2 separate regions of the Homo sapiens genome follow, and region 1 is linked to region 2. The links come from fine-mapping of genetic effects on gene expression. A gene starts in region 2. The other region holds a variant in brackets. All regions are shown on one strand. Distances are from middle to middle. Region 1 overlaps SYN3 (synapsin III). Region 2 holds the start of TIMP3 (TIMP metallopeptidase inhibitor 3).

What was found.
Region 1: its variant is fine-mapped to the expression of TIMP3 in fibroblasts (GTEx, PIP 0.94).

Annotation. Positions count from the first base shown.
Region 1 is chr22:32,580,397-32,585,765 of GRCh38, forward strand. The region is part of intron 7 of SYN3 (synapsin III); the gene reads right to left. SYN3-AS1 (SYN3 antisense RNA 1) reads left to right here. Exons shown (of 4, transcript XR_001755503.2): 2 at 3,481-3,990; 3 at 5,103-5,250. Among named protein-coding and RNA genes, the nearest start is that of SYN3-AS1, 8.1 kb to the left of the region's middle. The variant G/A (reference allele first, on the strand shown) is at 2,605.
Region 2 is chr22:32,798,817-32,804,185 of GRCh38, forward strand. TIMP3 (TIMP metallopeptidase inhibitor 3) reads left to right here and starts at 2,889. Exons shown (of 5, transcript NM_000362.5): 1 at 2,889-3,306. The coding sequence starts at 3,186. The region is part of intron 6 of SYN3 (synapsin III); the gene reads right to left.

The sequences.
Region 1 (5,369 bases), 220 kb before region 2:
ACATGACTTCTGTGACAGTAGATTGCTATAATTGTCTGATTTTATTATTATTTATTATTATTTCTCTCTTACTGTGCCTAAATTTATAAATTAAACTATATCACAGTTGTGTATGTATAGGAAAACCCAGTAAATGTAGGGTTTGGTACTGTTCATGGTTTCAGGCTTCCACCGGGAGTCTTGGAATGTATCCTTTGCCAATAAGGGGGAGCTACTGTAGTCGGGAAAAAAAATCAAAGAACAATATTATTCGAAGTGGGAACATGATATGAAATTCAAATTTCAGTGTCCATGAGTAGAGTTCCAGTGGAAGATAGCACTGCCCATTCATTTACGTATTGTCTGTGGTTGCTTTCCCACTACAAGAGCTGACTGAGTAGCTTCAGCAGAGACCATGTGCCCTGCAAAGCCTCAAATAGGTAGCATCTGGCTCTGTGCAGAAAACTTTGATGACCCTTGCCTAGATCATGGTCTAGCAGCATTGATATCACCTGGGAGCTTGTTAGAAATTCAGAACCCCAGGCAGGCGGGACTGCAGATCTAGTGAATGAGAGCCTGCATTTTAACAAGATCCCCTGGGTGATCTGTGTGCACAGTCAGGCGCTAGAGGAAGCAAATCAACATCTCTTAAGTATCTACAATTTTTTAAGAGTGCGTTACCTCAATCAGTCTTTAGGTTAATCCCTTTTCCACTAGGGACATTTACTGGCCCTGTTTTGTTTTTATTTTTTGAGACTGAGTCTCGCTCTGCCACTCAGGCTGGAGTGCAGTGGTGCAATCTCGGCTCACTGCAACCTCTGCCTCCCAGGTTCAAATAATTCTTGTGCTTCAGCTTCCTGAGCAGCTGAGACTACAGGCGCCCACCACCACGCCCAGCTAATTTTTATGTTTTTAGCAGAGACGGGTTTCGCCATGTTGGCCAGGCTGGTCTCGAACTCCTGACCTCAGGTGATCGGCCCGCCTTGGCATCCCAAAGTGCTGGGATTATAGTAGGCATGAGCCGTAGCTCCCGGCCAACTGGGGCTATTTTACAGGTGAGAAAAACAAAGATCGCACGTCAAGTGCTCGCCCAAGGTTATATAATTAGGAATTGGCTGAGTCAGATTTAAACTCTTAGGTCCTTTGTACATCCTGTGGCCTTAACCATTAAGCTCAATGGTCCCCTATACAGAGAGGGTAAGGCCAAATTCAGTGTCTTCTGTCTGAAGCTGGAGGCACTAAACTGGCTCCCTAAGATACCCTAAGTGGGTGGCTGTTTTATTTGACGTATACAGTGTTTCAAAAGATTTTTAAATTAGTTGCCAATATTTAAAAATAAGGAGTCTGGATATTGGAGACCCCAGATAATTGATTCTTTTTTTCTTTTTCTTTTTCTTTTCTTTTCTTTCTTTCTTTCTTTTTTTTTTTTTTTTTTTTTTGAGACAGAGTCTCACTCTGTGGCCCAGGTTGGAGTGCGGTGGTGTGATGACAGCTCACTGCAACCTCCGCTTCCTGAAGAATTGAAGCAATTCTTCTGCCTTGGTCTCCCAAGTAGCTGGGACTACAGGCGTGCACCACCAAACCCGGATAATTTTTATATTTTTAGTAGAGATGGGTTTTCACCATGTTGGCCAGGCTGGTCTTGAACTCCTGACCTTGTGATCCACCCATCTCGGCCTCCCAAAATGCTGGGATTATAGGCGTGAGCTACCACACCCGGCCTGAGAATTGATTGTTATAAAAGAATCTGGAAATCAGGCTTCCCTGGCTGGGGCTAAGTTGTGACTTCTCTTGCAGGATGGCCTCGAACTCCCAGCCTGGGCTTCTGACTCATGGTAATGCCTGGTCCCTTGGGCATCTGAGTTTGCATCCCTTGGTCAAAACCAGTGGTTATGCAGAACAGCCTGCAAATCACCTGTGCATTTTGTTAAAATGTAGATTCAGAGTTGGCAGGTCTGGAAACAGGTCTGCATTCTCCCTTTTTTTTTTTTTGAGACCGGGTCTCACTCTGTTGCCCAGGCTGGAGTGCAGTGGTGTGATCACAGCTCACTGCAGCCTCGACTTCCCAGGCTCTAGTGATCCCCCTACCTCAGCCTCCCAAGTAGCTGGGACCACAGGCACATGCTACCACAACCAGCTAATTTTTATTTATTTATTTATTTAATTTTTGTAGAGACGGGCTGGGGGTGGGGGTGGGTCTCACCATGCTGCTTAGGTTGGTCTTGAACTCCTAGACTCAAGTGATTCTCCCATCTCAGCCTCCTGAAAACTTCTGGGATTACAGGTGTGAGCCACTGTGCCCAGCCTATGTTCTGCATTTTTAAGGGGCTCCCAGGTGATACGGATGCTGCCAGTACTTCCATAGGGCACACTGAGCAGCAAGGCTACCGAAGAGCTCAGGACCGTCTGACTTCAGGGCCCATTGCCCAGATCATCTGAATCGGTGCCCTTGGCTGCTGATCCATTATCTGTTAGAGTGGCCAGGGGCCTCTAGGTCCTTCTCTTCAGCTGTTAGCAGCCTCCTCCATCGACCTGCTGAGTTGTATAGCTACCACTCTTTTCTAGGAGTGTCATGACGTGAACAAGGCTGAGCAGCATTCACTGGCCCATCACAGTGCCTCCTTT[G/A]TCTTCCAGCTTCACCCCTGGAGGACAGAGCTATTGGTATGGAGGTCTCCTGGGGGTGAAGACCAAGAGTCAAGCAAGAGATCAGGGTCTGCCGCTAGTGTCCTATTGATCTGGAGGCTTAATGGAGGCAGATGTTTGTATTTTAGAAAGCTGCTTCCCCTACCCCCAACACATGGACAGACACACACCCCAAAATGTAACAAACCCATTGTCTGCATCATCTGTGGTCTTCCTGGAAAACAAGCCTGCCATGGCCACCTGTCGGCAGTGATGCCAACTGCTCCCCGGTACAGCTATTTCCAAGATTCCAGAGATGTGGCTGGTTTCACTTCCAGGAAGCTTGCTGGAAGACTGCCCTGTGCCCCACGCCTCAGTAGGGCAGGGGGCCTCCCCTGGTTTTAGGATCATGCTTCTCCTGCCTGCTGATGGTAAGAATGGGCTGTGCCTGAGCGTTTTGGCTAGAGAAGCCCTCAGCAGACATATAGGCTGTGTTCCAAAAGGCCTGGCAGAACTCTCTGGAGTCTTACCTCCCCTGGCATGGATGCCAGAATCAGTGGGAAGAACGTGTGCGTGTGATATGCAGCCCTGTGCAAATCATTTCTCCTCTTTGATCTCTGCTTATCTCATCTGTAAAATGAGTATCATTGAAACGGTCCTCACAGGGATAACAAAAATTACATCCTGGGTCCTGTGCAGAAATATAGTTCTATTAAGCACTAATCAGGCCACACTTTGGCCCACTTCCTTGTAACTGAGAGTCAGGTAGCACTAGATACTGACCATCTGCATCCTCATTGTTCCTATACCTAGGATTTCTAACCTTAGAATCATAGGTTTTTGTTTACGAATTGATTTATATCCCCATTGTTCCTATAGCTACGATCAGTGACCATGGACTCATAAGGCTTTTGTTTAAGAATTGCCTAAGATGTTCTTCAGATCCTGAATTCCAGCAGGAAAGCTAATGCCAACCAGTTTGAAAACAACCACAGAGGAATCGAATCAGCACGAGAATGCAGTTTCTTCATTTCCCTGTCCCATGACTTTACTCTGCACTCTTTGACCAATCAATAATCCTGGACCTTGGCCCACTTCAAACCCCTTGAAATCTCTAGCTCCAACTCCCTGGAGGGGTGGATTTGAGGTTTCCTCCTGTTTCCTTGTTTGGCTGCCGTATGATTATTAAACTCTTTCTTTGCTGCAATCCCTGTTGCCTTGGTTTATTGACTTACTGTGCATCGGGCAAACAAACCTATTATGATGACATCATGACGCAATATCCACCTCAAAGGACTGCTGGGAGCCTCAAAAATTTACAAATTTGTGAATTGTATGTGACTGTCTGATGCCGGGGAGCAGCAAGGAGCTTTTGGTGATTGGAGTGCGGTAAATTATAATGTTCCCCACCCCACCGGGTGATGTGTGCCCCACTTCTGTCTGAGGGTCTCTTAAGGGGAAGAATTCTCTGGCCTTTGTTAGATGCAGTGTCAGGATGGCTCAACAGACATGACCAGGAAAACAGAGAAAAGAAAAAAGGAAATCTTATTGCTTTTCAATGTCTGTCAGTTAAAAAAAATTGATATTCTTTGTTTTTCATGGAGGGGTCCTCTGCATCAGTGCTCATAAGAACAGACAATTTATTTCTTCCAAATGAGTCTGTTCCTGGGCCTCTGTCCCTCTTGACAAAATGGGGCTTATAGATGGTGTACACTGTCTTTAAAACACAGTGCCAGAGGGTGGTATTCTTTCTTTCTTTTTGTTTAAATCATTCTTTTGAAATGAATGTTCTTGGTTTTGGCTTCAGGCCTGGTGTGAGATCAGTTGACCAAAACACAAGAGCAGTTCATATGCAAAAGGTCAGTGCTGGTCTCAAAGGTACTGACATGTTTCTTGGGTGGGGCCTTGTGAAATTCTTTATAAATAAACTCTCTAATTAAGTTGGCTCCTTGCCTTGTACTGGGAAGAGATGATTACACCAGGGTGTTCCTGAGGGTCCCTGGCAGCAAGCAGAACAGGGCTGTCAATCTCAGTCCAAATTCTGCTTCACCACTTACCTGTGACCTTGGGCAGAATGACTCTTGGCACCTCTATAAAACAGGGATCAGAAATACCTCTGAAATACCTCTGAAGGTTAGAGGAGATGCACAAGGCACTCATCGTGGTGTACGGGCACTTGGGAATTGTTACTATCCTCCTTCTCTTTCCTTATTCATCCATGTAATCTGCTCTGAGCTATCCCAGAGAAGCAGAGGCCCAGGGAAGTTAAGAAATTTGCTGAAGGTCACAATGCTGGCAAACAGTTGAGCCAAGCTCAGAACCCCAGCATCAGTTGGTTTTCCCCAGCGCCAGTCTAAGCCCAAAGCCCATACTCTCTTTTGCTTATCTCCCCATCTCCTATTTCTATGAAGCTTTAGACTTTCTAATGCACTTTTATTCACTAGCTCTCCCAAGTGATTGGGTGAGGAAAATCATGAAATAAGGGAAAATTGCATTTACAGGTTTAAGTGACTGGCACTGGTGGTTACTGCTGGCCCCAGGGAGTGTGAGGCTAGCAGGATGACCCAGATTTCCCAAACCAGGCCAGGGCTCTTTCCAGTGAACCAAGGATGATGTGAAGATGCAGGAGGTGGCAGAGGAAGATCTCAGGTAGAGGTCTTAGCTTTAAGTTCTTGTAAGAAAAATGACTTCATGATCTAGATGGTCCTGCCTTCAACAGGTGAACATTGGGTTACACAGAGAAGCAGGATGACTGTTTCAGTTAGCTC
Region 2 (5,369 bases):
AAGTAACTGGGACTACAGGCGCCCACCACCACACCTGGCTAATTTTTTGTGTTGTTAGTACAGACGGGGTTTCACCATGTTAGCCAGGATGGTCTCGATCTCCTGACCTCGTGATCCGCCCACCTTGGCCTCTCAAAGTGCTGGGATTACAGGCGTGAGCCACCGCACCCAGCCTGCATCTTCATTCTTACTGTTAGCCTCAGGTTCACCCCACCTAGCTTATTAAGTGATGTTGAATAACCAATTCTTACATATTATTAGGCTCATGGACACCATGACATCCAGACTGATGGGTGCCTGCTGAAGGGGGTGACCCTAGCAGGAGGACTCCCCTACGCAAGGATTCATGGAGTTTGCTGTTTCTTTTCCTTAGGGTGAGAACCAAACTGCCTTCACACGGTGGGCAGAGGGGAACTGACTCAGGTTTGGAATAAGAGAGAACATCCCAACTGAAAAGCTCTTGGAATTCGCTGAACTTCAAGACACTGTGTGGACCAGCTTAGGATAGGGAGTGAGAAGAAATTAACCAAAAGGTAATTTCGTTACTTTTCAGCTGGAAAAAAGATCAGATTATACTTGTGCTTTCATAATTAAGTAGCTGCTGGAAAAAAACGCTTCAGATGCTTTCTATGAGAAAACTGCTGCTTGAAGTTCAGCAGAAGTTATCTACTTGATACTTATATTCCAGGCAAGGCCTTCCGTTGGAGAAAATATCGGCACTTTGGACAAAACTGAAATGTGAAAAGAAAGGGAAGAGAGGGCCTCTATCATGTAAGATGCTTATCCAAAGTGGATTTGGTCTGGAAAGTCTTCTAAAACCTTCCACATGACTGTGGAATAAGTCATGTGGGGCGCGGGGATAAGCGAATCTCTCAAATTCCACCACGTATGCCCTCATTCAACCTGGATCCTTAGAGTGGCCTCCAGGGCACTCTGCTCAGGACTCAGTCAGCTGTTGGCCACACCCATGCTCTCCAGTCTCCTGAGACCCTATTTGGTTCTGAGAGGGCTAAAAAGCAGTGTGGCTAAATATCCCAGGCCTCAAAGTATTCCTACTGTGGTTGGGGAAGCAATAGAATCATACCCCATAAAACAATGAAAACAGTGCTAGAAAAACATCGAGAGACAGAAACATCTCTACGAGTTAGGCCACAGTTAGAGTGAAGGCAGGGAAGGTTTTTAAAGCTGGGTGGAGGGGACAAGTCAAAAAGATGTGGAAACTGGTTTCCCTTTCCTATGGCTAAAGTGCTCAAAGGGGAAAAAGGAGTTTCAAAAATGTTCTTGGAAATACCATCTCTCACGAATTCTTCGGCCTCTGCTGTCCCAATGTCACTTGTCTGAGATGTAAACAGAGGAGTTCTGAGAAAGAAGCTGAACTTGCATTTCTCCCTGTTTCTATTTGTTCCAAACTTGTGGCATTTCTAACAGGATGAAGCGGAAGAGAAAGGGAAAGAGACAAAAGTGTAGAAAGATGGAAGATCCCAGCTGCAAATGGCCATTTGCAGTTAGATGGAACAGCTGCTGACGTTCAGGGAAATGCATGTCTCTCTTCAGATGGGAAGGAGCAGTGGAAAGGGGTGACGAGTTCCTGGCTGGCCACCAATCATCCCATCTTTCTGTGCCGGTTCCTCATCTGGAAAGTGGGAGTGATACTTGTGCTTGCTTTTCCTACCCACAAAGATTATTGTGAGAGCTATAATACGGTGAGATACAGAATCCTGCTTTTAAAAATACAAAGCAGAATCAAGATGTCAATAATAAGGATAGTAATTGTGTTAGTTATCTGCAATCATCTATTATAGCTAGTCGTCTAGGATCCTGGATCGTTCTCCTGGTTTTACTACAGTTTTGGATCAGCTCACCCCCAAATCCCTTGCTGAAGGGTGGAGCTCTGTCAGCCATGGGCAGGGAACCACTTCCTCTTGCCTTTCTACTTTCTGTCTTTCAAACATGCCCAGGGTCTTTGCACTTGCTGTTCCCCCTGCCTGGTACCTCTCTCCTGTGGCTTGCCCCAGAGCTGATCCTTGTCTTTGTCCACTTCTCAGCGAGGATGGCACTTCAGGGAGCCCTTCCCTTACTATCGCAGAGAGAGCAGGCCCTCCCCAGTCATGTCCAACCCAGAACTCTGTTTTGTTTTCTTCATAGCCCTAGCATCACAGAAAATCACCCTGTGCATTCATGGATGTCCACGGGGGCAAGGGCTTTGTGTTGCTTAACCCAGCATCCTGAACCGTGTTTGTTGAATGAATACAGAACCCCGTTTGCTCTGGGAGAGCACAGAAAACAGTCTTCTATCATATATCATAGCCAGCTGCAAACAGCAGATGGCTTCCCATATCCCAGAGAGTAAGAACCAGAGAGAGAGAGAAAGAGAGAGAGTTTGGGTCTTTCTCCTCTGTGCCTGCTCTCTCCAGAGAAACTGGAGGGGTAGCAGTTAGCATTCCCCCGCTGGTTCCACCAAGCACAGTCAAGGTCTCTAGGACATGGCCACCCCTCACCTGTGGAAGCGGTCCTGCTGGGGTGGGTGGGTGTTAGTTGGTTCTGGTTTGGGTCAGAGACACCCAGTGGCCCAGGTGGGCGTGGGGCCAGGGCGCAGACGAGAAGGGGCACGAGGGCTCCGCTCCGAGGACCCAGCGGCAAGCACCGGTCCCGGGCGCGCCCCAGCCCACCCACTCGCGTGCCCACGGCGGCATTATTCCCTATAAGGATCTGAACGATCCGGGGGCGGCCCCGCCCCGTTACCCCTTGCCCCCGGCCCCGCCCCCTTTTTGGAGGGCCGATGAGGTAATGCGGCTCTGCCATTGGTCTGAGGGGGCGGGCCCCAACAGCCCGAGGCGGGGTCCCCGGGGGCCCAGCGCTATATCACTCGGCCGCCCAGGCAGCGGCGCAGAGCGGGCAGCAGGCAGGCGGCGGGCGCTCAGACGGCTTCTCCTCCTCCTCTTGCTCCTCCAGCTCCTGCTCCTTCGCCGGGAGGCCGCCCGCCGAGTCCTGCGCCAGCGCCGAGGCAGCCTCGCTGCGCCCCATCCCGTCCCGCCGGGCACTCGGAGGGCAGCGCGCCGGAGGCCAAGGTTGCCCCGCACGGCCCGGCGGGCGAGCGAGCTCGGGCTGCAGCAGCCCCGCCGGCGGCGCGCACGGCAACTTTGGAGAGGCGAGCAGCAGCCCCGGCAGCGGCGGCAGCAGCGGCAATGACCCCTTGGCTCGGGCTCATCGTGCTCCTGGGCAGCTGGAGCCTGGGGGACTGGGGCGCCGAGGCGTGCACATGCTCGCCCAGCCACCCCCAGGACGCCTTCTGCAACTCCGACATCGGTAAGCGCTCCTGGTGCCCCGCCCGAGCCCCACGCTGCAGCCAGGACTGCAGCGCTGCTTAGGGAGGCAGGGCGAGCCCCACTCCTTTCCTCTGCCCCAGGAGAGGGGCAGACGGGGTTGGGGCGGAGTGGAGAAACTCGATGTCCTTGGGCGGGGGCGCTGGCATAGCTGAGAGGGGAAGATGCCCTGCAGAGGAAACTCACAGTGGCTGAGGGAGCCCCTGGCCGCCTTTGCTTTCCTAACTTAGGTCGTGAGGTTCCTACCGGTCCTTTTGACATCTGGAAAATGTCCCCATTCACTACTAACGGAGGAAGGGCTAGAAGAGAAGGGTGGGGAAAGGGTTCCCAAAACTTGGAATGCTAACTAAAGTGCTGGGAAATTGAATAGTTAAAAAAAAAAAAAAAAGTTGCCCGCCATGTGCACGGAAAGTTGCAGGAGAAACTTGGAGTACTCCGAGTCTGCATCATCTCCTGCGCCTATGAAATTCATTCTTTTCACTGAGACCCAACCCAGCTGCAGGCTTCCCAGGCAAGCGCTAACCGAGCTTCTGGGACTGCCAAGTTTGGGTGGATTTAAGGGGGAAAATGAGGAGAAAGCTGTGGCATTGACCCACGCCCTGGAGGCACTGTGTTTGAGAGTGTTGATAGCCAGCAGAAGGTGCGAGGGGTCACTCACCACATAGCTGTGAAAATTCACAGGAAGGCTATTTTTTTCCCCCTTGAATGTGTGTGGGGAGGGGGAGAATGGGTAGTGGAAAACAGATTTGTCACCAAAAGAACAAACCTGCCAAGGGTCACATCACGGTGACAGTTCCAGACTGGACTTAGTGTCTTGAGTAGAGAGACCCTGTAAAGAGACCTCCTACTCCTTAGTGTGTATGGAGGGCCCCGAGAGCATCCTGGGAGGCTTGTCTGGGAGTGTTTGGGACACTTGTGTTTGGATGGCTAAAGGTGGAGTGGCATCTGGGAAACATCTCTCTCCTCCTTTCCAGCCCATAAAGCGTGCAAGTCCAGTGGCTCTGCTGGGAGAGTGTGTGTGTGTGCACTGGGCTGGGCTGGGCGGTGGGGTGGGACAGCCTTGCCGCCCTCTGCCTGTGTCGATTCAGAGGTGAAGAATGGAGCGTGTGTGTTTTAAGTACAGTCATAAAGGAGAAGGAAATTTTCCACTGAGTCTTGGGTGAGGGACTCTACCAGCGTGTTGTGGTGAGGAGGGGGAGGAGGTAGGAGCTTGGCAGGGGAGGCAGTGAGGGCCGGGAGGGGCACTGCTGGTGGGCTGGGCTGAGCCTAGAGGTCAGAGTGGGGGTGTGGTGACCAGAATGTCAGTGCAGTTGGCAGCTGAGGGTGTTTGTGTGACCTGAGGTCACCCTTGTAAGAGGCTCCCTGGGGCCTGCATGGTACATCCTCCCCTCTCCTGGGGGAACCCAGCTGGCCCAGGATTTGTGGATTGCTTAGAAAGATCCTTTTGGGCAGCCTGAAGACTGGGGAGGGTTTTCCTCCCTCCTCCACCTCCACCCACATTCCACTTACCCTTTCCCTCCTCATCCCAGTTGGTAACATTCCCACCTGATTAGTGTGGGGAGTTGCTGCTGCAGCTGAGTTCTGGTTTTGCCCAGCAGGATCACACACGTGCGGCCAGGAGGCTGGCAGGTGGAATCAGGGTGTGCAGGGGTGCAGCCCAAGTCCTTTTCTGCTGGAAAATGGGCTGGGTGACTTCACTTGCGTTTTTTTGGTATGTAGTGGGAGTAGGTCCCCATTCTTCCCCCTTGCCCTTTGCTTTGGGGTTTCTACCCTAAAAATTGACCACGGAAAAGTGAAAACAAGCATGAGTAGATCCTGCTTCCAATGGGGGCCTTCCCGTCTGCTTACTGCTTAGGTTTCCTGCGGTGGGTCTGAGCAATGCAGAAAGTTTCTTACAATTTCTCTGGATTGAAACAAGAAATAGCTCCCTCGCTCCTCTTCATAAATTTCTCAGAGAAAATCTAAGTTACCAGGAAGTAGCCAAAGACCAGGAGATTGTGGAATCAAAAAGAAAAAAAGAAACAAAAAATCTTCGATGCTCTGGCA